Homo sapiens: one gene and its partners. The protein of the gene in region 1 interacts with the protein of each later gene in a biochemical or structural test. Each region holds a gene or a part of one and is shown in the gene's direction. Other genes may lie near its edges. The genes, in order: MPP7, SLCO1C1, MTNR1A, RASSF6, HDAC7, ATP2A2 and CLDN19.

What was found.
Region 2: the proteins of MPP7 (region 1) and SLCO1C1 interact in a test that uses a peptide from one of them, tested with the Homo sapiens proteins (one large-scale study listed by IntAct).
Region 3: the proteins of MPP7 (region 1) and MTNR1A interact in a test that uses a peptide from one of them, tested with the Homo sapiens proteins (one large-scale study listed by IntAct).
Region 4: the proteins of MPP7 (region 1) and RASSF6 interact in a test that uses a peptide from one of them, tested with the Homo sapiens proteins (one large-scale study listed by IntAct).
Region 5: the proteins of MPP7 (region 1) and HDAC7 interact in a test that uses a peptide from one of them, tested with the Homo sapiens proteins (one large-scale study listed by IntAct).
Region 6: the proteins of MPP7 (region 1) and ATP2A2 interact in a test that uses a peptide from one of them, tested with the Homo sapiens proteins (one large-scale study listed by IntAct).
Region 7: the proteins of MPP7 (region 1) and CLDN19 interact in a test that uses a peptide from one of them, tested with the Homo sapiens proteins (one large-scale study listed by IntAct).

What each region holds. Positions count from the first base shown.
Region 1 is NC_000010.11:28,058,035-28,062,489, reverse strand, and holds part of MPP7 (MAGUK p55 subfamily member 7), read left to right. Parts: intron 1-2,746; coding exon 2,747-2,840; exon of another isoform or gene 2,841-2,974; intron 2,975-3,886; coding exon 3,887-3,995; intron 3,996-4,455. UniProt on the Homo sapiens protein: Acts as an important adapter that promotes epithelial cell polarity and tight junction formation via its interaction with DLG1. Involved in the assembly of protein complexes at sites of cell-cell contact.
Region 2 is NC_000012.12:20,722,613-20,727,067, forward strand, and holds part of SLCO1C1 (solute carrier organic anion transporter family member 1C1), read left to right. Parts: intron 1-477; coding exon 478-642; intron 643-4,455. UniProt on the Homo sapiens protein: Mediates the Na(+)-independent high affinity transport of organic anions such as the thyroid hormones L-thyroxine (T4), L-thyroxine sulfate (T4S), and 3,3',5'-triiodo-L-thyronine (reverse T3, rT3) at the plasma membrane.
Region 3 is NC_000004.12:186,548,790-186,553,244, reverse strand, and holds part of MTNR1A (melatonin receptor type 1A), read left to right. Parts: intron 1-4,455.
Region 4 is NC_000004.12:73,613,523-73,617,977, reverse strand, and holds part of RASSF6 (ras association domain-containing protein 6), read left to right. Parts: intron 1-2,041; coding exon of another isoform or gene 2,042-2,087; intron 2,088-4,455.
Region 5 is NC_000012.12:47,788,684-47,793,138, reverse strand, and holds part of HDAC7 (histone deacetylase 7), read left to right. Parts: intron 1-469; coding exon of another isoform or gene 470-480; exon of another isoform or gene 481-1,134; coding exon 1,135-1,268; intron 1,269-1,432; coding exon 1,433-1,553; intron 1,554-1,830; coding exon 1,831-1,880; intron 1,881-3,218; coding exon 3,219-3,326; intron 3,327-3,560; coding exon 3,561-3,616; intron 3,617-3,790; coding exon 3,791-3,878; intron 3,879-4,455. UniProt on the Homo sapiens protein: Responsible for the deacetylation of lysine residues on the N-terminal part of the core histones (H2A, H2B, H3 and H4).
Region 6 is NC_000012.12:110,348,678-110,351,806, forward strand, and holds the end of ATP2A2 (sarcoplasmic/endoplasmic reticulum calcium ATPase 2), read left to right. Parts: 3' UTR 1-1,614; coding exon of another isoform or gene 1,615-1,628; 3' UTR 1,629-2,416; downstream 2,417-3,129.
Region 7 is NC_000001.11:42,736,874-42,742,026, reverse strand, and holds the start of CLDN19 (claudin-19), read left to right. Parts: upstream 1-1,790; 5' UTR 1,791-1,963; coding exon 1,964-2,186; intron 2,187-3,441; coding exon 3,442-3,606; intron 3,607-3,713; coding exon 3,714-3,798; intron 3,799-5,153. UniProt on the Homo sapiens protein: Forms paracellular channels: coassembles with CLDN16 into tight junction strands with cation-selective channels through the strands, conveying epithelial permeability in a process known as paracellular tight junction permeability.

The sequences.
Region 1 (4,455 bases):
ATTTGTTTTCTGTTTGTCTCTTCTGTATTTTATTGTATTTTTCTTCTTTTTCTGCCTTCTTTTGGATTATTTTAGTGTTTTTTAATTTCCATTTTAATCTACTTGTTGACTCTCTGGTGGTATCTCTGGATTAGCTTTTTACTGGTTGCTCTGAATATTAATGTATGCATATCTAACCATTCATGACCTGCTTGCAGTTTAACTTGGTGTCATTTCACATAAAATACAGAAACCTGGCAGCCATTTAAGACCCTTTCCCCCAGCCTAATCTTTTTGTTTTAGGTGTCAAATGTATTACATTTGCATACATTGAAAACTATCAGACAATATTATAACTTTTCTTTAAAATAGTCATATATATCTTAATGAACTTAACAGGAAAAAAGTAGACGTTTACATTTACACAATTATTTGTTCTTTCCTCATTCCTGAATATAAAAGTTTCCTTTTTATCATTTATCTTCAGCCTAAAAAACTTCCTTGAATATTTTTTTTGAACAGTCGGCTGTGAATTCTGTTAGTTTCTCTTCATCTGAGGAGGTCTTTATTTTGCCTTTATTCTTGAAACACATTTTGATTAAGTATTTTCCTTTAGTGCTTTAAAGATATTATTTCATTGATTTCTTATTTTTATGATTTATAATAAATCTGTGACAGTTTAAATCATTATTCACTTATGTGTTCAGTGTTTTTTCCTAGCTGCTTTGAGATTTTTTATTTATCTTTGGCTTTTAATAGTTTGATTATAATGTGTCTAGGCATAATTTTTCCCTTCTGAGTGTATCCTGTTTGGGATTTGCTGAGCTGCTGAAATTGGTAAGTTTATGTATTTCACCAAATTATAGAAGTTTGGGGCCTTTATTTCTTCAAACATATTTTTCTGCCCCAATCTCTTTTTTCCTCTCCTTCTAGTACTCCTATGACATATGTGTTTTCTCATAGGTCCCTGGAGTTCTATCTATATTTTTTAAATCTTGTTGTTGTTGTTGTTGTTTAGATTATATAATTTTATTGTTCTGTCTTCAAGTTCACTGGCTTTTCTTTCTGTCATTCTGTTATTGTGCCCATCTAGTGATTTGTTTCTGTTGGATATTTTTATTTTTCATTTCTACAATTTCTATTTGTTTTTTTCTTTATAGTTTCTGTTCTTCTGCTAAGAATTTATATTTTTGTTCAATTCAAGTATATTTTCTCTTACCTTTTCAAGCTTAGTTATGGTACCTGTTTGAAAGACTTATGTCTAATCTAACTTCCAGGTCATTCAGGGTTGCTATCTGTTATCTTTCCCCTTGAAAATTGGTGTTTTTTTTGTTTTGTTTTGTTTTTTTTTGTTTTTGGTTCTTTCATGTTGAATAATTTCAGATTGCATTTTGGACATTGTGAATATAATGTTGTATTAACACTAGGTCTTGTTACCATATTCGGGAGAATGTTGATGTTTTTATTTTAGCTGCCAGCTTCTTTTATCTCACCTTTGTTATATTGATTTGGGTCTGTTAGGATGCAAGGATTAGTCTAAGACTTGTGTGCATGGTTCAGATCTCAGCTCAGTTCTTTAAGCCTTTTCTTCATTGGCTTAGATATGTTTTGCGATACTCTTTTTCAGGGGTTAGGCTGAAACCTGTACATTCCACTCTCAGTTCATAAGGCCTTTGCCGTGCTGGTTTGAGTTTGAACTACATGTGTGTAGCACAGAGAGGATTCTTAGACTATTGTTGACTCATACACAGAAGTGAAGTATTTTCTTCTCCAGCTTTCTTCTCTCCTGGATTTCCTCCACACTTTACAGCCCACAAGGACTTTTTCTACCCCCCGTCCCAAGTTCTTTGCACCAGAACGTTAGGGCTTCTCTTGGCATTTTGCTGCAGATTCTACCATGCTGCTCTGCGAAGGATTCCCACCCTTGGGGCAAAGCTAAGAGGAAAATAGAGTTAAACTCCTCCCCGTGCAGTTTGACTCCCCTCTACAGTCTACCTGCTTTACTTATTTTCAAAGTGTTCGGGTAGTTTCTTGGCATCCATAGTTTTTAGTTGGGATCTGCAGGAAGGATGGCCTGTAGTGGGTTTACATTTGCCATGTCAGCACTGGAGTGCCTTGGGCTTTGTTCATGTTGTCGTTTTAATGAATCCTATATTTTCTGCTCCATTTTAGTTCGTTAATAAATAATTAGGCAAGATTACTGAAAGGTTAGAAGTTCAATAGTATTCTAAGATGATGCTATTTATGACTTTGCAAAGGAGGAATGAGTAGCACACAGAAGTATTTGGCTTCACTTGGCTGGTAAAACAAAACTTTGATGGCATACCCACTATGTCCCATGAGAAGAAGAGAGTCAAACAGTTTCAGAGTTTATCTAACAACTTAGTGGTTAATAGATTTGCTTTAATGAATGAAGATCAATAAAGATAATAAGCATATTATTTGCAAAAAAAAAAAAAAGGTTTTTTTCCTCAGGAGTTTAAATAGCACTCTTGTATCAGGTTAGAGAGCCTTCAAAATAGCAAATAATAGCAGAGACATACAATGCAATTAACTTTTTAACCCATCTTCAAATCAATATAATTTTAATAACAGTGGAAAATCTGGATTTATAACAGCTTACTGTATTTTATTAGCTAATTTGCTTTTTAAATACATTTTTAAATCCTGTTGAAAAAACTAATTAAATACCCTTGATTTCTTTTTTAGTATTTTCCTTAAGGTGGCTGATGTGGGCTTTTCTAAACTCCTTTTCATTAAATCATAGATACCACCAGAGCAAGAAGAAGCCAGGAGAGTGATGGTGTTGAATACATTTTCATTTCCAAGCATTTGTTTGAGACAGATGTACAAAATAACAAGTATGTGGACATTTTTGAGAATTTTCATGTGACTGTTTTTTATAAGCACATGCCTGTCCCGTTTTAGACAACTGAGAGTTCTCCATTTGAAGTGTATTTTAATTATCATAATAATATTTGAAACAGATGAAAAGGTAATAATTTGGTTGGTAATTATTGTTAATCTTCACCTCTAATTTTTTAGTAACCTGGATTTGCTTCATTTCTATAAAATGTGTAGACACTGCTTTGCAGAATGAGGGAAGGTTGCAAGTGTCTTATTCTGACCTCCTTCCAGCCCACTAATTGAATCTTAACATGTAATTTGGATAGAATTTTACTTCAAAAACCAACAACTATGTAGTATATCACTAGGTCCAGCGTCTGCTTCACACACCTGCATCTCATTCTCTCATTGGCTCTTCAAAAAATTGAAATGATGATAATTAACTTGCTGGTACCGTCTTCTCTAGCTAGCTCCAAGCCCACCCCAGTGCCCCCTGCCCAGGTTTTCCATCTGCTGAGGCACAAATATTTTAGGCTATCAGAAGCAATATGTGTTTTAATGCAGGATTGTGGGATTTTATTAAAACATCGAAATGCTTTTTTCGTGTTTGGCGCAGTGATTGTGTTTTTATAGCACATGATCGACTGCCCTGGCTCCATTAGCCACCACCCAGCGCCTCTAGTTCTGAAGCTGGGCTGGGTTACTCCGTAGCGTGCAATGAAATTCCAGTAGTTTCTATTGTTTGGCTTATTCACCATTTTATTGCATTGCATTAGTTCTGAAGAAAAAGGGGGTGATGGAAAACATTAGAGCCCTACTAGACTAAAGTACTTTTTTTCTGCTTAAGTGTAATTTAAGCAAGTGTTACTGATTTGAAAATGTATAATAAAAGATTTTTTAAAAACTGACATTTTGAAATACTTGGCTCTGTTTATATTATTAAACACAGTTTAAAAAAATTACGTGTTCAGCAGAAACGTCTTTTACCTATGAATTTTATCTTGCCACCTATAATTGTTTTAAATTCACAAATGATTCCAATGCATTTAATTTTTTACAGGTTTATTGAATATGGAGAATATAAAAACAACTACTACGGCACAAGTATAGACTCAGTTCGGTCTGTCCTTGCTAAAAACAAAGTTTGTTTGTTGGATGTTCAGCCTCATGTAAGTAAACAATGAGCTATTCAATACCCTTCTGACCCATGTCATCTACAGCACCTCATGTGAGCATTTCAGTATGAAATAATATGAAGTCAACTCACTTTTGGCATATATGTGGCTTTTCTGAGATGGCAAAAGCATTTAAATATAATTGGAGACATCTTTGGTGGAGAAAAAGAAAAGCCCATAATATTATTAGAAAGAGAAGTGGAGGAAGCTCCAAGACCTGTGTTTGTAACTCTTATTTATATTCAGTTTTTGTCAAGTAAAGCAACTCTTAGATGTTTCTACATATTCTGTATTTTTAAAAAATACATCACATTGTTACATGCATAATGCATTCTTATGTGTTATGTATTAGTAACAGTGTCTATAATTTTTAACGATGGACATTTTGGTTCCAAGTCTTTGACTTTGGTTCTGTATATATCCTAGCAAATAACCCCCCACTAGAACTGAAGGG
Region 2 (4,455 bases), on another chromosome or scaffold:
GGGAGAACACCAATGCTCATTTCTAACACTAAAATTCATATATTAAATGGAGATAACTCTCATATTTCTTTCTCTTTGACCACAAGCTAAGTTTGAGGAATAGAGACAAGAAAAGTGAAGGTCTTTATGTCCTGCCTGTGGCTCCCAGCTAGATGATGAGGGAGTATTCTCATCCTTTTCGTCTTTTGCCCACATCAGTTAGAGGAATCTGTTCTTGTCTGACTCCTACCTTTAATATAATCTATACTGCATGTCTGTAGAAATGAGTGCCTATGTCTGGATTCGAACCTGGCCAGATCGCAGGCTTGACGCATGCCAGTGGCTTACTATATACATAGTGTATGTGTGTACCACACTGTGACTACTCCCAAACTGTGTGACAATGGGCCCCAGCCCTGTAAGTCCTGCCAGCACGGCTACTTCTTCTTCCATGCGTGACACCAACTTTAATTAGTCTATGTTATTTTTGTTTTACAGATTTTCTTCCATCACTGAAGAATCTTTTTGGAAACCCAGTATACTTCCTATATTTATGTACAAGCACTGTTCAGTTCAATTCTCTGTTCGGCATGGTGACGTACAAACCAAAGTACATTGAGCAGCAGTATGGACAGTCATCCTCCAGGGCCAACTTTGTGATCGGTATGCTCATCTGCCTTTCATGCTTTCTCAGAGGGACTGTCTTAGAGGTACCTGATTAACTCGGGAATCTTCGAGAAGATTCTTCCAAGATTTAGGTAATTTATGACATTTTAGATGAGCTCAAAAAGTAACAAGAATGTTGTAGCAAGAATTATTCACATCTGTGGGTAAGTAACCCAGAGAGCAAGCAGTTCTTGAAGTGATATCATAGAGATGAAACATGCATTTTATGAGGAGTTTGTTAATAATACTGGATATTTGTCTTTTAAGTGCAGCCGAAACCTCAAAACAGTGGCCATTTTACATGAACAGTTTCTAGGATTATATAAAATGCACAATGAGATAGGTTAAAAGATGTTCATTCCAAAACAAAACTTGTATTTTCGCGGTCAAAAAACTTTTCTGACTCCTGGCAACTGAGTTAGTTCAAAGGGTTGTGTTTCTAGCAACACAGTCAATAATAAGATAGAAAAGTATGAAGAAATGAAAGAAGAGAAACCAGAACTTACAAATACATGACCACCACTGTGGAAGCAACTAGATATTTTAAAAATCAAGATTCGTTTCTTTAATCCATGAACATGTCATTTAATGTTACTGTTTCAAGGCATAACATATTTGTTTCTTGGGACATATTCCTTTATGATAGGAGACTCCAGTGGTATAAAATAATTTTCTCTAGTATTGTAAAAATCAGTCTATATTTCTACCTCTGAAAGAGACCTGGAAGGAGAAAAAAACAGCCAAATGTATTTTAGGAGATATAATTTTTCTATGATAATCTTGGGTAATGGGCATATAGCACATGCTAATATAATTGACAGTTTTAAAAGATTTTTCTCCAAAATTCTTGATGTTAAGGTTACGTTACTGAACATTTTTACTTTTAACATCAATTGATTTAAATTAATTTTATTACTTATTGGCTGACCTAAAGAAATATTTTGTGGCTTTTTTCTCCAACACCCCATGCATGCTAATCAATGCTTTATATTGATTTTAACATGAATAGATGAGGATTTAAAGTTTAAGAGAGACTTTATTTTATTTCACTTTTATGTCTACATTGAGATATAACTTATCAACAGTTAAGTCTACAGACCTTAAACAGTTCAGATGGATAATTTTGATATATATAATGTGTGTGTGTGTGTGTGTATATATATATATATATATATATATATATATATATATATATGTGTGTGTGTGTGTGTGTGTGTGTGTCACATCCAGCATCCAGAACATACAGAATATTTTAGTTCCCCAGAAAGCTTAACTCTCCTATCAGTCAAAACTTTTCCCCAAAGCTAATAACTATACTAAACTATATTATCATAGACCAGCCTTGCCTGTTTTTGAACTTCATATAAATTAAATAGTATATTATATACTCTTTTGTGTCTAGCTTTTTTCAACTGAAGTGAAATCTATGAGATTATTTTATATTGTGCATAGCAGTGGTACATTCTTTTTCATGCTATGTCATATCTTATTACATAAATAAACCACAGTTTATTCATTTTATAGTTCATGGACATTTGTGTTGTTTTCTGCTTTCAACTAATAGTTATTTATAATACTATAATAGATAATATAATAATATATATTATAAATATATAATTTCATATACTATGAAAATAATTATACATACAATTATTTATAATAGCATTATAAATCATTATGTATTTATATGTATATTTATAGGTAATATTATAAATTTATGATAGTATAAATAATTACATTATAAAACATATATTTAAAATATCTAACATATATTAATATGTATATAATATGTATTAATTATATATTATATATATTATAATAAATTATATAAAATAATATATACAACATGATATATAACTATCATATATAATATATAAAATACTTTTTATATTAATAATTTTTATAATTATTATTTATATTATAAATCATATAATTATTTATAATAGTATTTTAAATAATTATAGTTAAAGAAAGAAAAAATACAAATAAAAATATGTATTTTAATATGTATTAATATAATATATATTATATTATTTATAATATATTATAGCATATTACACTATAAGATAGTATTATATGCTATATTAAAATTTATAGTATATTACATATAGTACAGATAATATAGTATAATATATGATATATGGTAATACTATAATAATATAGTAACATCTGGTATTATATATAGTATATTATGTATACTATAATATATAATAATAATGCTATTATAAAATTATTTATAATAGTTAAAAGCAGAAAACAACATTCCACATGTACATTGGTGGGCCACTATGCTCATTTTTCATGGTTATACCCTGGAGTGCAATGGACATTTGTGTTGTTTTCTTTTAACTAATAGTTATTTATAATACTATAATAGATAATATAATAATATATATTATATTATACTGCTAAGTGCAGTTGCTAAGTCAGAGGGAGAATATGTGTTTAAATAGAGTAGATATTGCCAAAACACACGGAAGTTGTGCAAATTTATACTCCTATTAGAAACGTAAGAGCATTCCAGTTGCCCCACATGCTTATCAACACTTGGAATTGTCAATTCTTTTCACTGTAACCATTCTTATGCGGTATGGTTGTGGTATTTCATGGTGGTTTAATTTGCATTTACCTAAAACTCTATTCTTCAAAGTTTCTGACATGTCATATCTACAGATAATTCAAATACTTTTGTGAGAGATAAGTAATAGTATCTAACAATTTTACATCGTTATAGCTAGGATTGTTCCTGAGATCATATTGGTTTCACATTAGTAAGTATGGGGTGCAGCCGACTAAGCGTAAGTGGGCCAATTATTCAATATCCTCTCACCCTTACTTTGATTATTTGTACGATGGTGAAAATAAATATATCACTAGGTTGAAATAAAGATGAAAGTATACAGATAAAATGCATAGTAAATGCGTATATCTGTCGTTCAATAAATATTATTTCTCTCTTTCTTTTCTTCTTCTATTCAACCTCTCTTTTTCTTATTTTTTTTTTTTAACTTGGGCTATGGGATAATGATCTTCCTGCAATAAAATATGAGATAGATACAAAGAAGCACATTTCCTTTGCTTCTTTGAGAGAAGGCATTTGACATACCATGGAGGGGTAAATAAACAGAAATTTCCCGACATGTTCAAGGGCCAACTGTTACAACGACAACTTAGTCTTCCTGTACATGTTTTTAAATGTTAGCCACATTCTTTCTAAAGTTTAGAGATAGCATTTTTTCTCAAGTTAATTACTTTAACTTTGTGGAAAAATATTAAAGGAAAATAAATGACAATAAAATTTAAATCCAAGAGCTAGGAAGCATTTGTGAAATGATTTTGCTTTTTAAAGTTTGTGGAATTTTAAAAAGATTTTTAATGAAAGAAATTTGGATAGGCAGCTAGATTTTCATTTTTTCTTTTGTCTTTTATTTATTATTTATTTATATTTTTCAAGTTTTATTTTGGAATAGGGAGTATGTGTACAGTGCAGGTTTGTTACAAAGGTATATTGCATAATGCTGAGGTTTAGGGTATGACTGAACCTGTCACCCAGGTAGTGAGCATAGTACCCAATGGGTAATTTTTCAGTCTTTCTCTTCTCCTTCCTTTCCCTCTCCAGTAGTTCCCATTGTCTGTTGTTCCCAACTTTATGTCCATGTGTATCCAATATTTAGCTCCCACTGATATGTGAGAACATGTAGTATTTGGTTTTCTGTTTCTGAGTTAGTTCACTTAGGATAGTGGCCTCTAGCTCCATCTGTGTTGCTGCAAAGGGCATGATTTCATTCTTTCTATGACTGCATAGTATTC
Region 3 (4,455 bases), on another chromosome or scaffold:
ATAAGGATAGCTGATTCAAATATAAGTTTTGGTATGCTTATTAAAAGTTTTGATGATCTTCAGACCTCTCATTTCAGCTAAATTAATTTTGTTGGCTTTAAGGATGAAATGTTGGGAAGAAGAGAATGGAAGAAATGACAATGTGAAGGCATCTAGGCTTTGAACCATCACTTTCCTTTGGAAAGCTTGGTATAATTGTGGTGATTTATGCCACCTTCCTCTCCTCAAGGGACTGTGTTGACATTTGACTTCCCAGGGAATAAATTAAAAATGGCTAACAATCTGCATGGCGGGGACAGTGGACAGCCACAGCCGACGCAGGCTGCAGACAACCACTGGTATCTGTGGTGCCAACAGAATATTCGCTCTACTCTTGTCCACAATTTGATAATAGAAGTGAAGCTACCATATCATATCTTCTGAGTAAATTTGATAGCATAAGGGACGATTCCCGCAATGGAACGCTAGGATTAGATCCTTGCTGTGCTCCTTCTGATTTCAGAAATCAGTGAAGCTAAATACCAAACTTCATTTTCCACATTTGTTGAATTGCAGGTAATACCCAACCGCTTAGCCTCATAAGAGTGTTGCAATGACTGTAGTGAAGTGGCGCATATGAGAATACTTTGAAAAGGATAAAACACGTAATACTGTGTTGGCTTGTTTGTTTTCTGGGTACACCTAACAAGGGCGTGCTCTGTTTGCTGGAAATCATTGCACTATAGACCTATGATTCGTGCATTTTTCTATATGTACATTATACTTAAATAAAACTTATTTTACAAAATATCAGGCAAGAATACAATACTATCTTGCCTATTCAAAATTCAATTATCTGGCAATCTAACTGAGGTAGAGTACAGCCAATAAATGGAAATTAGCAAAAATGACAGGCTCTCACCTACAGCGGATTTGTTCTAACTTAGAGTGCCACAAAACTGTGATACTGGTGTCTAGGTCCCTGTAGATTATGAGCAGGAAATTAGGAGGAAGATTGACACATTTAAAGAAATAGCACATAATAGCAAGCAGTATGGGTTGAAATAGACTCATTAAATGCAGATCTGAGAAACAGAACAAGCACAACCTTTTGTGCTTACATTGTGAAGATGTGAACAGCCCTGCTCACCATTCACGGCTCCTGAAAGCAGCACAGTGCAGCAACATATGTATTATCATCACCTGATTCATCAGCGAGAGATGTCATCATGAGTGGTGTGTTCTACTTAAGAAGACAGGGATATGATACATTTTAGAAAGATACCTGTCAAAAGCAGTTTATTATTATTATTATTTAATCTGTGTGCACAGTAGGGTAAACTTGTCAGTATATGTTTTTAAAAATGGTTTCCCAGAATGGCTCTATGGCTGGATGGCTGACTCTGTGTGAAGCCTCTCTTGCACTTGTTGCTTTCAGGTCTCTATAGAATGTTATATTTATTCATTCTGCATTACCACTCAGAGAGGATGCATAGAGTACGGAGTGAATGTGGACTTTGGGCCTCAGAGATCTGGTTCAAGTCTCGGATGTACCACGGCTGTTTAAGATGCCACTTTTCTTACAGGGATACTAGAAGGATAAACTTAGATTCTGCCTATCAGTCCACTTACCTACCCATCCACCCACCTATACGTCCAACCACCCATTCATCCATCCAGCCACCCATCGTCCGTCCATCCATCCATCTATCCATCCATCCACCTACCTACCCACCTATCTATCATTATGAGGTACAAATAATAGTATTATGATGTTAATGCTAGTACGCATCTGGTGATTAGTTCTTTTTAGATTGTTTTTATTTTTTAAGTGTATGTTTAAAAAAAAAAACAAGTAGACAATATGAACTGGAAAACAGTGAAATCAACCAGAAATGGAAGGTTTAGAATCTAATTCCCATTTGTGACATTATGCAAAATACACAAAATCTCCATTGTCTGAGTTTTCCCTTTTGTAACAACCATTATCTCTCTGCAGCAAGAAGGCCTGAGATTTAAAGACTGATTATTTCGATATTCAGCTGTTCTCTAATTTTAAGTGAATCAGCTCTAGAAGCTACAGTAGCTTCCTTGGGCAAGCAGGCTACCATTCAAAAACCTACGACGTAACTTGTACTGTACAGACTTGGAAAATGATTTCAAGCTAACCCCACTTCATGCGATCTCCAAGCCGAGAGGTTTCTTGTTGGCGCTGCTGTAGTTTCCCTCCTGTTGCTTTCCACAATATTTGAAATTACTGATTCAAGGCAATTTTTTACTTTAGAGACATTTTATTGATTTTTCCCCCTTGTATTCTTAGCTGTTGTTCAGTTTTCTATGACTTTCTATCTTGGTTTGTATAGTACATTGTTATGAACCCTAAGTTTTTACAAATATGTCAAAGTAATTCCCAGAATCCCCTGTAAATCTTATGACAGTAGTTTCAGACTCTCAAATACATGATTGAATTTGTCTGATCTTTCGTTCCTCCAGCTATTCATTTCGTAAGAAAGTATTTCTGGCAGGAATTTTCAGTGTTAAATTAATCACAGATAAGATAGAGCTTACTTTTGCTTGCCTTCAGCATCATTTTTCTCTTGGCAATTTTGGGAGTTAACCTAGGATAAAATAGTCCTAGATTAGACCTCCTTCTATTAATATTTACTGCCATTTGATGGTTCTGTTTTAAAAAGCATCTACACTGAAAACTATCATGCCTTGGAAGTCACTTTAAATCTCCACAGAGTCTTTGGAGCTCATTCTGCCCATTCTTCCTTAGCACCTTTTAAAAATAATCAACAGAATAACTGAAATGAATGGTAAGATCTTTACAAGGTGCCTTAAGCTTTCCCTTTTTTCTACATATTTGTAAGTTGCCTCGCTGACAGAAATACCCTTTCTTCTAAAAAGGAAACTCACATACTCCTTTAGAGTTTTCTAGTACCAAAAAGGCAATTAGTGGATTGTTGTTAAAGAAGCGTTTTTATGAATGCACAGAACTCTGCACGGTATCATTGGTGCCATCTCTGCCTCTTCATGAAGATGATCAGCAGCCTCACTTCTGCCCCTCTCAAATAATCAAGGTGACCAGGAACCTGAGCGCTGTATGTGATATCTCTGTGATTTTTAGTGCAGTTAAATAATGCTGCAGATAAGAAATAAACTGCTGGATTCTCTGGATGAAGTACTCAAACACTTGTCTTTCTACAGAGCTGTATACACTTTCGGCAATGCCATTGAAGGAATCAGTCTCAGAAGAAGAGACGGGAGAGAAAATGCATTTGCACGGTGCTGAATATTATTTAAGTTAATGGAGGTGAATTTGAGTTGTTAGGGTGCACGGTTTAAAAGCGTGCTCACTTGCTTTGATACTGAGTAGTTTTGGTGCTTATTGAGCTGAACATTTACCTGGATAAATACTTACTGCATTCCTAGAGTATAAGGCAGAATGTAAATGGTTGGTAAATTTTTGCAGGTTTGTCAAAATTCAAGGTCCTGTTCTAAGCGTGGGTCAAACGCGGCTCCGACTTTCAAAGAGATTACTTTCTATCGAGGCACTTTAGAAATGTGTGTTCTTCTTATTTTCAAACAAAGAGAAGACTTGGGGTACAAAAGTATGAAAATAGGAGCATATTTATACAGCAGAAAACTTTTTCAAGAGAAATGCGAAAGTTGGCTGGTAGATGGTAGCTGGAGCTTAAAGCAATCATGAGAATTTTTTAAAGTTGTTATCTTACGAGGAGAGAACAATGTAATAACTGGGAGATGTGAAAACTAGTTCACATGTGAAATAGCAGCAGATTGAGACGGAATTAGTGAGAGAATTTCAAAGAAACTGATCAGTGGTAGAGACACGGCATAACTATTAGTGAAGAACACACTGGCTTCAGGTCTTTCGAAGAAACGCCTGCTGGAGAACTAGCCTGCTAACTTACATTTATACTTGTTTTCTCAAATAGTTATTAAGTGGTGGATTATAAAAATGTGTAATCAGTAATTAGTATTTCCTCTTTGATGATTTTCTGAACATATTTAGGAATATGTTCTTGGAAGGGATATTGTGCTTTCATCCTTCCTGCATTCATTCCCTCCTCCTTTATTTAAATGCTTGCTGGATGCCTCCTATATCCATCTATAGGAGCTTAGGACACGATTTTGTTTCAAGAGAAAATTCTGGTTCACTCATTTTTATTTTAAGATGTGGTTTAAATTGCAATTTTTACTTTTAAGATTTTTTGCCAGTTAGTTTTCATTCCATTTTTTCCTTTTATTATTTACTTATCTTTTTTAGCTCCTTTCGTTGTTCCCTCTGAATTTGGAATACTTCCAACTGTTCTCATTTGTGTATATGTCTGTGTAGGTATCATATAGTCTTTTACCATGTACTTTTTTTAAAAGATTGTTTTACATATATAGTGTATATATATATATATATATATATATATATATATATATCTTTATAGATTAAGCATTCCT
Region 4 (4,455 bases), on another chromosome or scaffold:
CCATTTGCTTATATAGATTCATTGATTGCAATGTAGGTGGGGAATTCACGGTTACTAGAGTTACATGGGCTTCATATAAAAGCTTAGATTTTTAAAATATTCAAGTATAGGCCATTTGAAAACAAAACCTCTGAGAAAGGAATTCTGAATATTTTCCTTTCACATTACAGTTAGAGAGTTATTCTGTTGCAAAAATTAATTTGTATGTTTAAAATGATAAATTATAGTGATTTCATCACTTTCATAACATAATCTCAACAACCAAACTTAACTAATACCACTGCTTTCAGGAGTAGAACATGAAGTGTCTCCTATTTAAGTAATAAGGATGTTAACTTAAAGGAAAACTTCATCATCACCTAGAGCCTAGTAAAGGAGCTTAAGAGGAGAGAGTGTCGATTCTTTTGCAGCAAATATACAAACAGGAAAAATGAGTCGTGATCTTTGTGACGTCAGCCTAAGAATTTCTACTGGGAAGCTCAGGTGAAGCAGAAAATTTTTGAGTTCCACCACACCAGTAATTCCAGAAGATGCTGTCGGCAGACTGAGCAGCGCCTCCCAGACCCAGTGGTGGCAAGATGCCTTAAGTGCCTTAATACAAATTTGCTTCTCTGACCGTTTCTGCTTTCTTTATCTCCCTGAGGGCACCTTGAGCAGAATAAAATGCATGGCATTAGTACCATGTAAATATGCAATAGAACAGTAAAGTTTTGGCATTTCCAATTAGATTCCACTTGAACTGAGGGCAGTGGCATGCTCACATAGAAGTGTGTTTGATTCATATTCTGCTTAGTCCTCTCTTAGATTCAATGATTATAATACATTATTTCTATCTCAAAACCAACAATCACTGACTGCAACCAATATTACTTAATTAAGTGATAGTTTGTATATATGCCAACTCTTGACCTTTACTGTCTCTGCAAATAAAGCACATTTTAAGAAAAAGTATGGAGCCAAATGTTTCCCAGAAACCATCACTCTGTTAACTCTTTTCCTTTTTTGAGAGAACTAGATACTGGATGGAATTATAGATGCTTTGTCTCATTTTCTTGAAGTGATGTAATTGCATATAACTCTGCTCTTCTCTACTCCAAGGTTCCAGGTCATAACTTTGAGAAAACAGTTTCGTTTTGGAGATGAATACATAATTGTAACTTTCTATTGCTTCTTCAAGCTGAAACAATATTTTATTAAAAAGACTCTCCGTGTGTACAGCCCTTAACATACTCTTATCTCATAATTGAAATACACACTTGCTATTCTAGTGTGATACTTTCTGTTCTTTTTTTAAGTAGCTTTTACTGGGGACGTGGGTGAGAGAGATGTAACATATATTCCTTGTCTATGATTTAGACAGTACATACAAAATAAAAAAAGAAATAATTATCACACATAATCTCTTAGCTCTTAATTTTACCATTAATATTATAATATACCTCTCTGTATGTTGGATGTATTCAATATTTTGTGTATGTTTTATCTATATGCCTGCATATATTCACTCACTTTAGAAGACACAAAAATGAAATAGCAATAATTCTGTCCTAAAGGACCTAGTAATCAAATTAAGTAAAATAAAATATGGTTAGAGAGAGAAAGCAGTAAGTAATTAGAAAGCTACAGAAAATTTCCTGTGAAATTTCAGAAGCAAGAGAAATTGTCTTTGGCTGGGAAATACAGGGAAGTTAGCACCTGTATATATATGTATAGATAGATAGATAGATAGATAGATAGATAGATAGATAGATAGATATAGATATATGTATATATATTAGTTCTTTGTAAAATCATTAGCATTATGACACTTTGTGCACCTTGTGGCCTCAGAAATAAGAGGCTATAGATATAGATACAGGCTATACTTTCTGTGCCTAGCACGGTAGCAGGTGCAGAGAAGGAACTCGTGAAATATTTGTTGAATTTACAAACGAGTGAACCCAATTTTCCACTTTTAGATATGTAACCATTTAATTAACTCATGGTTGGATAACAGGAAGTTACTTTAAATGACTGACCCATTTGATTTAATTTGTACTAGAATTCACTTCCTGTCCTCTGGCCTCATTCTGGTCACAAGGCAACTGGTAAGTCCAGGCAAGCCCACCTCTAGGCAGGAATGCAGAGCAGGGGGAGGTGAACCACGTTCCAGCATTGCTGGAACGCTAATGCTGCCCAACACTGCCTCCTCAGGCTCCATCCAGATCTCATTGGCTTGTTCAGACCAATTCTACCTCTCCTATACTTCTAGTGCTGTTGATTTCTCCAGGACTTAATTGCTGACCTATCTAATTCCCTGTTTCTCCAGCTTCATTGTTTCTGGACAAAATGAAAAAGTAAATAACCAAACTTATTAAATAATGATCTTATTTTACACACAATCTAAGTCAATAATCTCTGGCCCCAGGGCCTACATAGATTTGTAACAACCATCTTCCTCCTCAAGTTGTAGTTTATTATGTTCTACCAAAATTACTGAACATCCCAAGTAAGACCTCCAGGCTTCTAGAACTGTAATTTTTTCTTTCTTCATAAATTCTCTCCCTCGTTGCTATTCATGACTTCTCTGTTATTCTCCTCTTAAGTCCTTGAGAAAATTTGCTCAGATGCTTATATCTACCAAGTCTTTATAATTTAGGAGATTTTCACAAGGGCCCTAGCAGGTTTTAGTTTGCTATGAATCATGGTGAATGGGAATGGGAAGATGAGGATGAAAAACTATTTGAATTCATAGATCTATGCCTCACTTCATTGTTTTTGTTTGTTTATTTGTTTTGCTCTTTTTTTTTTTTTTTTTTTGAGACAGAGTCACACTCTATCACCCAGGCTGGAGTGCAGGGACACAATCTTGGCTCACTGCAACCTCCATCTCCCAGGTTTAAGTGATTCTCGGGCCTCAGCCTCCCAGGTAGCTGGGATTAAAAGTGTGTTCCACCACACCCGGCTAACTTTTGTATTTCACTTCACTGTTAATACTAACAATGGGACTTTTACCAAAGCATGTTCTTACCTTTCAGGTATTTAAACTGTTTGAATATTTTATTTACCCAATTTTTAGATCAGACATGAATAATATTATTTCCTACTCAAATATTATGTGCTGCCTATGAATGAAAATTTTATCCTGTTTTTATTTTCTTACATTAAATTATATTCAACTTTCTTCCTTCCTAAAGTCAGAAAATAATATAAGAGCCTTGGAAACCCTTTCATCACATCTTCTGAAGTCTTCTGAAGCTGGCTATGAGTTACCTCAGCATAGATCAACAGTGTGTCACTATAACTACATTGCAATTATTTGCCCTCTTTAATGATATCTTTGATATTTCTTATGAATGCAAATAAAGAGTGAGCCAGTTGGAAAGCTACTGCAATGATTTTTCAGTCCATCACTGCCAATTTTCACTTTGTAATTATAAGAAGCTGCTATCAGTGGTTCTTCAGTTCCAAATATCCCCAGTGTCTGGTGAGGGAAGCAAGCTGTCTGGTTCTTAGATGGTCTTTTTGCTATGCTCTGACATGGTGGAAGGGTCCAGGCAGCTTCTGGGGTCTCTTTTATAAGGGCACTAACCACATTCATGAAGTCTCCACCATCATGAACTAATCACCTCCTAAAGTCCTCACCTGTTAATACTATTGCATTGGGGGTTAAGTTTCAACATCTAGGTTTTGTGGGGACACAAACATTCAGACCACAACAGAGGGAGGCCCTCTAGTAGGCTGACGCAATAATCCAGGAAAAAGATGATGGTGGCTTGGCTTAGGGTAGTAGCAGTGGAAATCAAAGCTTTCGAATTTGGAATATGTTAGTGGTACAGTGAATAGGACTTACTTTTGGATTGAATTTGGCTTATGATGAAAGAGGGAAAAAATGAGACTAAATATTAGTTTTGATGCCTAGATGGGAAAGAATTGTGGAGGAGGAAATTTTAGAGCATGGGAGAAAGTCAGTGGTTCTTTTTCAGCCATGTAGATATCGAGATGCCTGGTACACATCTAAGTAGAGATTAGGTAGGTGGTGACATGCGTCTGGAGCTCAACAGAGATTATGGGATGGAGACAGATTCGATTACCTGGAAGAATGTATAGATAGAGAAGAAAGGATGGCTGAGAATGGACACTCAAACAAGCCAGTATTTAGTGATCATACAAAGGAGGAATCAGCAAAGGAGACTAGTGTTGAGGCCTGTGAGATAGCAGGAAAATAGAGTGAGGTGATTGTTATTCATGGTTTGTCTCAAAAGCATCAAGAAGAAAGTGTTTTAAAAGGTAGGAAAATCAATCTTGTCAAATGTTGCTAAGAGGCCGAGAAATGAGGAGAGAAGTGAACTCTTTGGCAAGGTATAGGCTCTTGGAACATGGATGGAGAGGTGGAGGTAGGGCTAAATTAAAGGAATATATGATAAATAATCTGGACCCAGGAGGAAGAAGGAAGTGTTTGGACCCCAGGGTCAT
Region 5 (4,455 bases), on another chromosome or scaffold:
GTCAAGCCAGGATAAGAATTCCAGTCTCCTGCCAATGCACTCAGCCCTTTTAAAAAATGATATTTATTACTGTTGCTCTGCTTGTAAAAAGAGCTCAGAAGTATTTTAGACATTTTGAAGAGTACAGAAAAACCTAAGAAGAAAAGAAAAATCACCAACCAGTATCCCACCACCCAGAAGTAAACCCTCTGAAATTCTGCTGTATTTCAGTCCAGGCTTTGTTCTGGCCATATGTACATGTACAGATGCCATGAACACATGAACTACGTTTTGTATCCTGCTTTACTTAGTTAACATATTATGAATCCTTCTTGGCATAATTAGTCTTTAAAACTGAGAGTCTCATAGTATTTCATTAATGTATTTCATTTTTACTGAGGGATCCCTTATCAGTTAGACATTTAGATTATAGCTTATTTGAATTTCCTTATGCATAAATCTTTCCTCATGCTTGGGATTATTTCCCAAGGTTCACTCTAAAGAAGTAGCATTCCTGGGTCACATGGTGTGAGCATTTTGAGAGTCGTTGGTGTCCTAGACGCACAGAAATTGACCCTCCCACCCGCAATGAGCAGGACCCTCCTCTGAAGACTTCCCACGGGTCAGACTGAAATAGTCACTTCTCCAAAGCTGGATTTGTCTATCACATGGTCCAGTGTCATCGTGGGCTTCTTAGCTCCCGGTTTGGGGGTTTCCTAGGAATTCTTTTCCCTCCTGCTGCCCCTTGGTAGCCTCTCTGGGTTCATGACACGTGTGTGAGATGCTGTACGTTAGGCCTCATGCTTTGCTCTGAGCACTTGAGGGCCTGGTGCTGGGCCCTCGAGTCCTGGGCCACCCAGCAGTCGTGTCCGCATGTGGGAAGGCCGTGGCTCTGTGGCAGCCATGTTGGCTGGAGCTGTGTTGATGTGTTGGCTGCTGCCACCTGGGGAAGTGTCTGGGCGTGTGTGGACAGGTGTGAGGGGCTGGGGCTGGGGTAGGGGCAGGATGAAATGCAGGCCTGTGTGGGTGTGAGGGGTGTGTACCCGCCCGGCTCCATGTGGGTGCCTGCTGTGGCGGTGCTGGCGTGTTCTCTGCAGCCAAGGCCATGGGGCGTGAGGACTCCCTGGGTCCCCGCTCTGACCCTTGCTCCTGCAGGGCTGATCTATGACTCGGTCATGCTGAAGCACCAGTGCTCCTGCGGTGACAACAGCAGGCACCCGGAGCACGCCGGCCGCATCCAGAGCATCTGGTCCCGGCTGCAGGAGCGGGGGCTCCGGAGCCAGTGTGAGGTGAGGAGGCGCGGGTGGGGCCCGAGGAATGGGTGGAGGGAGGAGTCATGGGAGGGGAGGGGTGGGGGGCCCTGGGGCCCATGAGAGATGAGGGGCACATGGGGTGGTGGTGATGGGAGGGAAGGGGCGAGCATGAGCTCAGAGCTCTGTGGTCCCCTTTTCAGTGTCTCCGAGGCCGGAAGGCCTCCCTGGAAGAGCTGCAGTCGGTCCACTCTGAGCGGCACGTGCTCCTCTACGGCACCAACCCGCTCAGCCGCCTCAAACTGGACAACGGGAAGCTGGCAGGTAATGGCCTAGTGGCCCTGTCTCCCCATGCCAGCTTACCTCACCCAGCTCCCATGCACTCCTGTCTCGGCTCTGCCCGCCCAGCCAGCCTCCTCCTGCACCCTGGACGTCCCTACTCCAGCTTGCTGCCAAGCCCCTCCTCAGCCCACCTCCACCTCTCCCTTCCATATTTCTCTCCCCCAATACTCACCCGGCCCTGCTCTCTGGGCTCCCTGCTCCCTGTTGGGCCAAAGGCTGAGAGTATTCACGCTGACGTGGGCTGGGCCTCTCCCCGCAGGGCTCCTGGCACAGCGGATGTTTGTGATGCTGCCCTGTGGTGGGGTTGGGGTAAGTGTGCCCAGGGGTCTCAGGGGGGCGTTGCCAGGGCTCTCAGCTCTCCTCCCTGTGGTTCTCCCAGGCCCAGCCCCTGCAGAACCTCTGCTTGTTGTGGTTCTGCCAGACAGGGTGAGCCAGGGACTTCCTGAGGTGCCCCCTGCAGCAGGAAGCTCCTTTTGGACAGGCGTGTCTCGGACCCACAGTCTCCCCCGAATGCGGAGTCCAGCCTAAGCCTTCCCCTAGAAGGTGTCTGGTAGATGTTGAGTGAGGTTTCAGGAGCAGGGCCAAGGCTGGGGCTTAGGATCATCTCTCCCTTCAAAGACCCCCATGACTGGGCATTGGCCGCCAGGCTGCTCTGTCTGCTCTTAAGTGGCAAGTTGGGGTACCTCAGCCTGGTCCCCAGACCTTGGGCTGCCTGGTGTGACATCACGGTGGTGCTTCCGGTGTCCTTGGCGATCCCAGCACTCCCCACTCCGGGACATAGCCCCAAACTCCGCTCGCGAGCTTTGCTTCCTAAGTCCTCACCCCTTTGTGAAGGGAGCTTCCCGCTCCCTCCGGCTCAGCTCTCCTCGCCTAACACTATCCCTGCAGTAGTTTCTCAAGCAAGGTGTGTAGAGGCAGGGGATGGAGGCCTCATTCCGGAGGGAAAGTGGGAGCTGTAGCTGGTGGGGGACTTTGGGAGCCAGTCAGTGCCCTATTCACAACTTCCCATTTCTTGCCACTTTCTGGTTTTTCCAACTGTTGTTGCTTCTGTTTTCTCCTCCCTCCTCTCCCTCTCTGTCTTTCTCTCTCTCTCTCTTTCTCCAGCCTCTTGCGACTCTCTCTGCCTTCCTCGCCTCTCTTGGTCTGCCTCGCCCTCCCCATCTCCCCATCATGCCCCCCGGCCCCTCCCTAGCCTTGAGGCCCAGGGACTGGGTTTGGGGGGCCTCCCAGCCTGGGCTAGGGGCCCTGAGTGGAAGACAGTGGTGCAGACGGCCCCTCCAGCTCCGACCGTCCCGCAGGGCCTGAGCAGAGTCAGCTGGGGCTTAAAACCCCCTCCCGGCCCAAACCCCAAGTCCCGCCCAGGTAACGCCATGCCCCCTCCCCTGACCGGGGAGGCAGGCGTGATGCTGCCAGCAGAGTGCTGGCCAGATAATGGGCTGGTGCTGGGACTTAAGCTGGGAAAAAGTCATGCTGGGATTGGGGGACACAGGAGGCCTTGCCTTTGGGCGGTGGGGCACTGGGGAGGCAGCACTGTCTGCCCAGCTCCCTGCCCCTGGGGTCCTGGCCGTGGGGTGGGGACCACCCCCTTGGGCCCTGGCTCCTGTGTGAAGCCTTGGATGATGCGGGCCCTGACTCTGGCTCCCGCAGGTGGACACTGACACCATCTGGAATGAGCTTCATTCCTCCAATGCAGCCCGCTGGGCCGCTGGCAGTGTCACTGACCTCGCCTTCAAAGTGGCTTCTCGTGAGCTAAAGGTAGGAGGTTTGGGTTGAAGGTGGACACACCACAAAGGAGGAAGCAGAGTGGGGTAGTGGGGAATCCAGGCCCAGAACCCCAGGCATCGCATTCCTCTTAGAGATTGCTACAGGGTTTTGGAGGGGAAATTGAGGGCTCTGGGAACCAGGTTGAGATTGGAACTCTTGGGGTACGTTCATGCAGCTGTGGGTCAGAGCTGTCTGTTGATTGACAAGCATTCTTTCTTTTTCCAGAATGGTTTCGCTGTGGTGCGGCCCCCAGGACACCATGCAGATCATTCAACAGCCATGTAAGGCTAAGGGAAGACCTGGGTGGGATGAGGTGGGGGGCAAGCCCCCAGGAACTTCCTTCAGGGACATTCTCTCTTCTTCCCTGAGCTTTCTCAGGCTGGGCCAACCCAGGGGCCTGGGGAGGTGAGGGCATGTGGAGAGAATGGGCTGGCAGGACCTGTCTCTCCTTCCAGGGGCTTCTGCTTCTTCAACTCAGTGGCCATCGCCTGCCGGCAGCTGCAACAGCAGAGCAAGGCCAGCAAGATCCTCATTGTAGACTGGGTAGGTGCCTGTCCGTAGCACCCTCCAATTCGAGAGCCCTGGGGGAAAAGCCCTGAGCCTGATGTTAGAGATGCGGCTTCATGTCTTAGTTCTGCAGTAGCCTCTCTGAGCCTCAGTTTCCCCTTGTGTAAAATTTGGGTGAAGATAACACCCACATCACAGTTGGGAGGCCTAGAGGGGATGGCGTGTGGGAACGCATTCAGCCATCGCAAACCCCTGCAACGAGTAGGAGCTGTCATTTGAGTGTTGTCTTTTGACCTCTATTGGCTTCTTTTGGCAGATCTAGTAATTTCTGCATTTCCTGTACAGGTAGTGATGATAAGAATAATAGCAGATAACATCAGTACACCACTAATCACATCCAGACACTGATGGTTTTACACATGATGGATTTAATCCTGACTATAACCCACTTTACAGATGAAAGTGAGCACAGAGAGATTAAGTAACTCACACACAGTCATTCGTAAGTCATGAGATGGATTTGAACCCAGGCGGGTTAGCTCTAGAGTGCTTGCGTTTAACTGCTAAGCTATGTCCCTTCTGCACTGACAGCTGTGTAAGAGACATTTCTAAG
Region 6 (3,129 bases), on another chromosome or scaffold:
TGGGCAACAGAGTGAGGCCCTGTCAAAAAAAAATCAGCCTTACTGTGAAGCCTCCAAGGCTGCTCGCAGGCAGCTGTGGCTCTCGGGAAGGGAGGCTGCTTTGCCCAGCAGGGAACATTTGGGGCAGGGGGTAAATTTTGCCAGTTTGAGCATCATGAGGTGTAACAAGAAATGGGTTGAATGGGCCAAATGCAAGGAGTGCATCTCTGGGCTGCAAACTGACTTGAGTGCTGCACTATTGCTATTCCGTGCAAACAAAACTCAGCTTTTCCTGACTCAGTTCCTTGACTTAGTGGCCTTTACAAAAAAAGTTGAGTAGTGTGTGGCCTGCTGTCGCACAGCCCCTAGTTAGCTTCATGGTTTCTCAGCTTCAGACCCCTCCAGCCCACAGAGGAGCCCATGGAGGGACCCACTTCCCTTGGTCCAGACAGCTGGGAGTGGGTTAGGCCCACTGCTGTTTTGAGCAGGGCCACTTGCTCCATTTCACTGAAGGCTTTGCTGGGTGAAAACACTTCAGCATCTCCTCCTCAGGTCAACCCATAAAGACCAGGTCCAGCACCGTGGTCTTGGCACATCCCTGGCCTCAGGCCCTCACCTAACAGTGAGGCAGCAGCTGCCCAGCCCCGCAATGTGCCTGCTGTCAGGCAGCTCTTGCCTGAAACTTACTTCCACATTCTTTCCTGATGGGCAGGTGGCTGAAGGCCCAGCCATCAGTGTCGCTTGTTGCCACCCCGTGCCTCCCTTGGCCTCTCTGAGCTTTGCCCAGAAGACCAACAATCATACATACCCTAACTGGGACACCACTCTGCAGAATGCAGATGATCCATTCTGGAGGAAGCTGTCCCTTGAGCTCAGTGAGCTCCCAGGCAAGCAGGGCATCTGGCCGACTTCCCTCACAACAGCTGCTCCCACATCCCCTCGGACTGGAGCTTCAGCCCTGACTGAGGTGGGCAGACCTAAGACCTGAGACCACAAGATTAGCTCAGTGTCTACCAAGCATCTAGCCACTGTCCAGGGCCAGAGCATACCACGTCTGCAGTGCCTGTGAGCAGAGCCAGCAGTTGCCCTGTGACTGTAACCACCAAATTGTCCAAACACCCGCTGCAGTTAGCAAGAAGGGTAGGCTTCACCCTCCTTTACTGAGGAGAATGATGCGGAGGAGTTTCCTCTCCAGGGCTAGGCAAGGCAGGCGAGCAGCCAGAAGCCGGGTGCCCACAGGGCAGGGACAGGAAGGCTGTGCTGCTACTGGCTGCTCACTTCTCCATCAACCTCACCCTCTGCACCACTAACCAAGACCTTGTCCTCTTGCCTGTCTCGCTGCTTTCACAGCTGCAACGATTGTGTCTGCCTCATGGGGTTTTCCTCCAGAGCCTTTATTCTGTAGCCAGACGACACGAGGAGTCTGTGTCACTGAGCCAGTGCTTCTAGATGCTACCCTGTGTGGGCGGCACCTCAGGGACAGTAAATCAGAAATGCTGGTCTTGAAACCTTGAAAAGATCAAGCTGAATGTTCCTTTTCATCTGTCGCTGTTGATCTTCATCTATTTAAATAGGTATTCTAACGTTTCCTCTCTGTATTTCATGAAGCTGATTTCCTCTCTCTTTCCTTTTCAGCAATACTGGAGTAACCGCTTCCTAAACCATTTTGCAGAAATGTAAGGGTGTTCGGTTGCGTGCATGTGCGTTTTTAGCAACACATCTACCAACCCTGTGCATGACTGATGTTGGGGAAAAAGAAAAGTAAAAAACTTCCCAACTCACTTTGTGTTATGTGGAGGAAATGTGTATTACCAATGGGGTTGTTAGCTTTTAAATCAAAATACTGATTACAGATGTACAATTTAGCTTAATCAGAAAGCCTCTCCAGAGAAGTTTGGTTTCTTTGCTGCAAGAGGAATGAGGCTCTGTAACCTTATCTAAGAACTTGGAAGCCGTCAGCCAAGTCGCCACATTTCTCTGCAAAATGTCATAGCTTATATAAATGTACAGTATTCAATTGTAATGCATGCCTTCGGTTGTAAGTAGCCAGATCCCTCTCCAGTGACATTGGAACATGCTACTTTTTAATTGGCCCTGTACAGTTTGCTTATTTATAAATTCATTAAAAACACTACAGGTGTTGAATGGTTAAAATGTAGGCCTCCAGTTCATTTTCAGTTATTTTCTGAGTGTGCAGACAGCTATTTCGCACTGTATTAAATGTAACTTATTTAATGAAATCAGAAGCAGTAGACAGATGTTGGTGCAATACAAATATTGTGATGCATTTATCTTAATAAAATGCTAAATGTCAATTTATCACTGCGCATGTTTGACTTTAGACTGTAAATAGAGATCAGTTTGTTTCTTTCTGTGCTGGTAACAATGAGCGTCGCACAGACATGGTTTCAGGTAAATAAATCTATTCTATGATAAATTCTCAGTGTGGTGGTGACTGTTCTGTGGGAGGGGGACTGATGGGCACCAAGGGCCTCCACTCCGCACCCGGGCCTGCCCCTCTACAGGGAAGCAGGGGAGGCTCAGTCTGGGCAGGGTGGCCATGTGACTAGAGGGGACAGGAACCTCTTGGACTCGACTTCACAGTAGACAGGCTGACTGGCAGCAGGTCCGCCCATGTGAAGCCCACCCTGGCTCCCTACCCTTTAAGGATGGGGGAAGCTGAGTGTGTGTTACCAGTGGGGTCTTAAACACACAAGGCCTCACTCGTCAGTGTGGTGAAGAAAGCCAAGACTCCGCGCTCTCCATTGTTAGCAGCCTGGAAAGATCTGGAGACTAGCAATGGAGAGATGTTTCTTAGGCTGTTCAGATCCAAAACTTCCACATTCCCCGTTGTTGATAGGTATGGGATGGAGAGGTGAACAGAACTGAAGCAGCTGTTGGAATTCATTTGCTGGTTACTTTAGTGCTTATTTGGCAGTGATGGGTTTGGGATTGGGTTTTTGGTTTTGCACATTCCCTAAGATGATTCTTTATCACTTTAAAAAATACCAGGATACAAGGATAGCTGGATGATTCTATAAATCTAATTTTTAAAACTATCAGTTCTGGGTAGGCACGGTGGCTCACGCCTGCAATCCCAGCACTTTGGGAGGCCGAGGCAGGCAGATCACAAGGTAGGAGATCGAGACC
Region 7 (5,153 bases), on another chromosome or scaffold:
TCACTGCCCGCAGCCCCCTTCAATCTGGACCTGGTGCCTCCCTCAAAAAGGGAGGAGTGTGGGAGAGAGACCACAGGGGCCAGCACCACACAGTTTCAAGCGGAAAGCCCTTCCTGCTGTTTCCTGGCTGGGGGTCTATTACCTCCCTCTGCCGTGGTCTCCTTACTGTTAGGAGGCCTGCTGCCTGCAACAGTGGCCCACATGCTTAAATTAATGCACTGGTCACAGGGTGCCCATTGCGGCCCCAGTAGGATGGAGGAGGCTCCCCTCAATCCTACTGTCTTGTCATTGTGGTAGAAGAATCTGAGCTCAGGACTTACTTCTCTGCCACTGTCCTAGACCCCATTTGGTCTTGGGACCCACAGGTCGTCCAGGAAGCAGGTCTGTGTGTGCTCGGATCCACGTGGCTCTGACCCTCCCAGCACAGAGAGCCTGAGGGTCCCAGTGTGCACCACCACAGGTCAAGCAGTGCCCACCCTTGACCCTCAGATGGCAGACCACTCCCCCATCTCTGGCCAGAGCTGCAGGCCATACCAGAGGCCTACGCCCTGGGCGGGCACACAGGGCTGCCATTGTCTGCTCAGCGCCTGGCACCCTCTCGTTTGCATAGCCACGTGAAGAATGCAAGAGCGGGCTGGGGACTTGTCCCTTCAGAGGGGGGTTGGGGCTGTGGGGGAGGAAGCCAGCAGGGGTCTGCAGCAGGACCCTGCCTTCCCCCAGTGCAGTCCAGGAAGGGTGGGTGGGCTGTTGGGGACGGAGGGGGCGGCGGGGGGCTGGCAGGAGTGGAAGCAGGGTTGTGACATTCCTTCTGCACCCACGCTGCAGTGGGGCCCACTTGAACGTGAGGGGATTGCTAATGAGGTGGAAGAGAGTTAAACATTCCCCTACTCCTGAAGACCAAGAGAGACTGGGAGAGAGAAGAGGGAGGTGGGGGTGCTCGGAGCGGGCAGCCTGAACCCCGGGAATGTGCAGAGGCCACTGCTCCGCGCCAGGCTGCTCTAGAGTTGGGGGCCAGGGCCCAGTGTTCCAGTCCCAGCAGGAGCTACTAAGCCAGCCAGCAAGGGGATTAAGGGGCTGAGCAATCCGCCTTCCTTCAGGCTGATGCCAGAAGGTTGGGGCTGTCTCCCCAGCTCCCCACCAGGCCCCTTGCTGGCCGGCAGCCAGCGCTGGCCCAGCCTCGATAGGGCCCCTTTTCTGTCCCCCTCAGATCTCAAAAAGACCCCACAGTACATATTTCCTGGTCTGGCCTCCCTGATTTTTGGCACACACAGCTCCCAGGTACCCATGACCCCTCTTCCCAACACCCCACCGCTAGCTCAGCCTCCCCACATCCAGCTTCAGAGCCCCTGCCAAAAAGTTATCCTTGACATCTAACTCTAGTTTTACCCGCTGCAAACTGGCATTCCTTTCCCTTCTGTCCTAAAGTCAAAGGGCAGAAAACCCCAAGGGTTAGATCAGCCTTGCAAGAGCAAAGTCCATCCTCCCAGGGCTGGTGTTTGGGTTAGGGATTATCCGAATTTTAGGACACCCGAATCAGGTTCCTAAAGGGGTTTCCCTGTGGGGAAAGGCCCAGAGGGCAGCTGGGTCATTCCTCTCAGCCCCTCCCTTCCCTATCCCTGCGGAACGGGGCGGGGCAGGGACACCACCTGGGCCATGGGCCGGCCCTCCGCCCCCAGGGGGCTGGGCATGAGCTTTGCTGGGGACCCTGCTCTGGCTTAGGCGGCTGCTGTGGGCGGGCCCTGGCCTTTTCCAGCCCCTGGGCCTCCCCCTGCATTCTGGAGTCCAGAGCCACTGCCTTTGCTCCAGCCGCTGCCGCCGCACCACCTCTCCTTCTCTGCCTCTGACCCTCCTTCTCGCTGCTCCCCCTGCCCAGCTGCTCCTCCCACCTGGCCATGACCAAAGCCCCTGCTGGCACCCTGGCCCAGCTCTGAGTCCTGGGACCCTCGGTCCTCTCTCCTGGGCCATGGCCAACTCAGGCCTCCAGCTCCTGGGCTACTTCTTGGCCCTGGGTGGCTGGGTGGGCATCATTGCTAGCACAGCCCTGCCACAGTGGAAGCAGTCTTCCTACGCAGGCGACGCCATCATCACTGCCGTGGGCCTCTATGAAGGGCTCTGGATGTCCTGCGCCTCCCAGAGCACTGGGCAAGTGCAGTGCAAGCTCTACGACTCGCTGCTCGCCCTGGACGGTAGGCCCCAGGCCGGCGGGGTGGGAGATGGGAGGTGGGAACAGCAGGGGAGTCTGGAGCAAGTTTTCCTCACAGTCTGCTATCTGCGCTGGGCTCCAACCTCCAGCCTCCGCTCTACAATTCCCCCACTACTGCCCTGTGCCCATTGACGGTCCAGGCCAGCCTGCTGCCCTGTGGGAGGGGAGGGCTCTAGGGTCTGGCGGCTGTGGGTCCAGATTCCTGCTCTGTCACTATAACTTTGAACTAGTCACCAAACCTCTTCCCATTGTGATGTTCTCATCTCTAAAGGGGAATACTAATACCTGTGGCACTCTGAAAGACTCAGTTAAGACCCTTCATCCACTTCTCCCCACAGTCAGTAGACAGACACACACTGTATGATGCACACCTGCTCCCTAGTCCTGCTCCCAGGCCTGTGTGCCAGCATATGGGTGCATGCACATGCATGCAAACACGCATGCACACGCACACACGTGCACATGCATGCACAGACAGGTGTGTCTGCATGCAGTCCCTCTCCTTCTGGGGTGTGGAGATGAGCCTGACAGGCACCGCCGAAGTTCTAACTCTGGGGTGGAGGTGATCCACCTGCAATCTGCCCAGGAGCCCCCAGGGACAATCTGCTCCCCATGGGAGCTGGGAGCAGAGCGGCCTTCAACCAGCCCCATTGTGCCAGTTCAGGCAGGTCAGTTCAGGCAGGTCATCTAGCCTCGCTGAGGGACCCAGGTCTCCTGAGCACCCCCCAGGGCCCAGGATGGACCCATGCACCCGTGAAGAGGCAAGCTTCCAGCTGCCATGGGCAGAGGGGAAAGTGACTGTTGTCTGAATGGCTGCTGGGGAGGGGTTGCTGCGGGGCTCAGGCTGAGTTGAGCTGGGCCTCAGATACCCCCAGCTCTTCCACCTACCAAACCTGAGGGGACCCTGGAGCTGCCCTCAGCTGCTTGGGAGGATGGGCCAAGCCCAAGAGGGAGTCCCCAGGCCAGAAAGCAACAGCAGAGTGAATCATACTACCGGAAAAGCCTGCAAGGGCGAGTGGAGAATGGCGTTGACAGTGAAGGGGACTCTCACCCCCACACCCTGTCCTCATGCCCGGGCTGTCACTCCTCACTATCCTGCACCTGCCAGAAGGTGGTCTGACCCCCCAGGCCAGCTCCTGCTCAAGCCCCTCTCAAGCTGGGCTCCTTCCACCGACCCCAGGCACCGACCCAACCCCCATCCCCGCCAGCCCGACTCAGTGTCATCCCGCCCACCCTAGGTCACATCCAATCAGCGCGGGCCCTGATGGTGGTGGCCGTGCTCCTGGGCTTCGTGGCCATGGTCCTCAGCGTAGTTGGCATGAAGTGTACGCGGGTGGGAGACAGCAACCCCATTGCCAAGGGCCGTGTTGCCATCGCCGGGGGAGCCCTCTTCATCCTGGCAGGTGAGTGCCCCTCACTCCTGCACAATCACAACCATGGCAGGCAGCCCCAGCCCCAGTGGCCTCGGGGGGCCAGAGCAGAGCTGAGCGCCCCTCTGCTTTGTCTTTAGGCCTCTGCACTTTGACTGCTGTCTCGTGGTATGCCACCCTGGTGACCCAGGAGTTCTTCAACCCAAGCACACCTGTCAATGCCAGGTGGGTGCCAGGGCTTGGGTCTTTTGCTTTACCTCCTCTGGGGCCACTGACCTTTGTCCACTGGATCACCTGGCGGGGGAAGTGGGGACAGGATCCAGCTGCTGTCCAAGAAGCTTTAAAGGGGGGCGCCAGGAGGAGTGTGGTGGGGCCCTCCATAGGGGCGGGAGGCCTGTGATGGGCACCCAGGTGCAGCAAGGACTCTCTAAGGACCTAAGTGCCCTGGCTCTGGGTTTCAATCCCAGCTCTGGCTGGGTGCAGTGGCTCACGCCTGTAATCCCAGCACTTTGGGAAGCCAAGATGGGTGGATCACCTGAGGTCAGGAGTTCAAGACCAGCCTGGCCAACATGGTGAAACCCCGTCTCTATTAAAAATACAAAAAATATCTGGGCATGGTGGCGGGCGCCTGTAATCTCAGCTACTCGGGAGGCAGAGGCAGGAGAATAGCTTGAACCCGGGAGGCAAAAGTTGCAATGAGCCGAGATTGCGCCACTGCACTCCAGTCTGGGTGACAGAGTGAGATTTTGTCTCAAAAAAATCAAACGATCAATCAATCCCAGCTTTGCATGCACTGTGTCACCTGGGCAAGTTACTTAATCTTTCTGTGCCTAGTTTCCTCCTCTGTGAAATGGAGCTAGAACCTGAGCACCAGTTCACACATGGTTGTCAGGATCCAGCAGGATGCAGGTGAGGGTGTGGCACCGTGCCCGGGCCCTGGACAGTACCCAGCAAGCCTGAGCTGTTTTCATTTCTGCTGGTGGCAGCAGGGCTGAGATGACTTCCTGCAGGAGGCAGCAGTTATTCTGGGCCAGGAAGAAACTTGAGAATAAGGGCAGATCGTGGAGGGCCTTGCAACCACAGGAAGATTTTGTTCCTCATTTGGGTGGAGGCAGCGGCAGTCCTTCTGGCTGTGATGTGCAGAATGGTGGGGAGGGAGTGACACCAGGAAGGCGGCTGTCCCAAAGGTCTGAGCAGAGAGTTTGGGGCAACAGGGAGGGAGCAGTGGAAAGCAGGCTGATATTCAGGAGATAACCAGGACTTGTAAGACTGTGGGCATGGGAACTGAAGGGGATGCTCTGCAAAGGGCCTGGGCCCACCTTGGCTCCTCCCTCACTTCTCAGCCTAGCCAGGAGCAGAGAATGGGACAGTCTTAACCCTAGACATCCCAATGGGCTTTGGGCCTTGGGGTGGAGAGAGGATGAGAAAAGATGTCTGGGCTTTTGCAATCGGGAGGGATGCCTGGAGGAGGCAGAGGTGTTGAGAGGCAAGGGGAGGGAGGAGATCTCAGGTACAAGGTTTGTTCCCTGGGTGGTGGCTGCAGCCACAAAGTCTGCCAAGCAAGGTCCAGCTCAGGCATG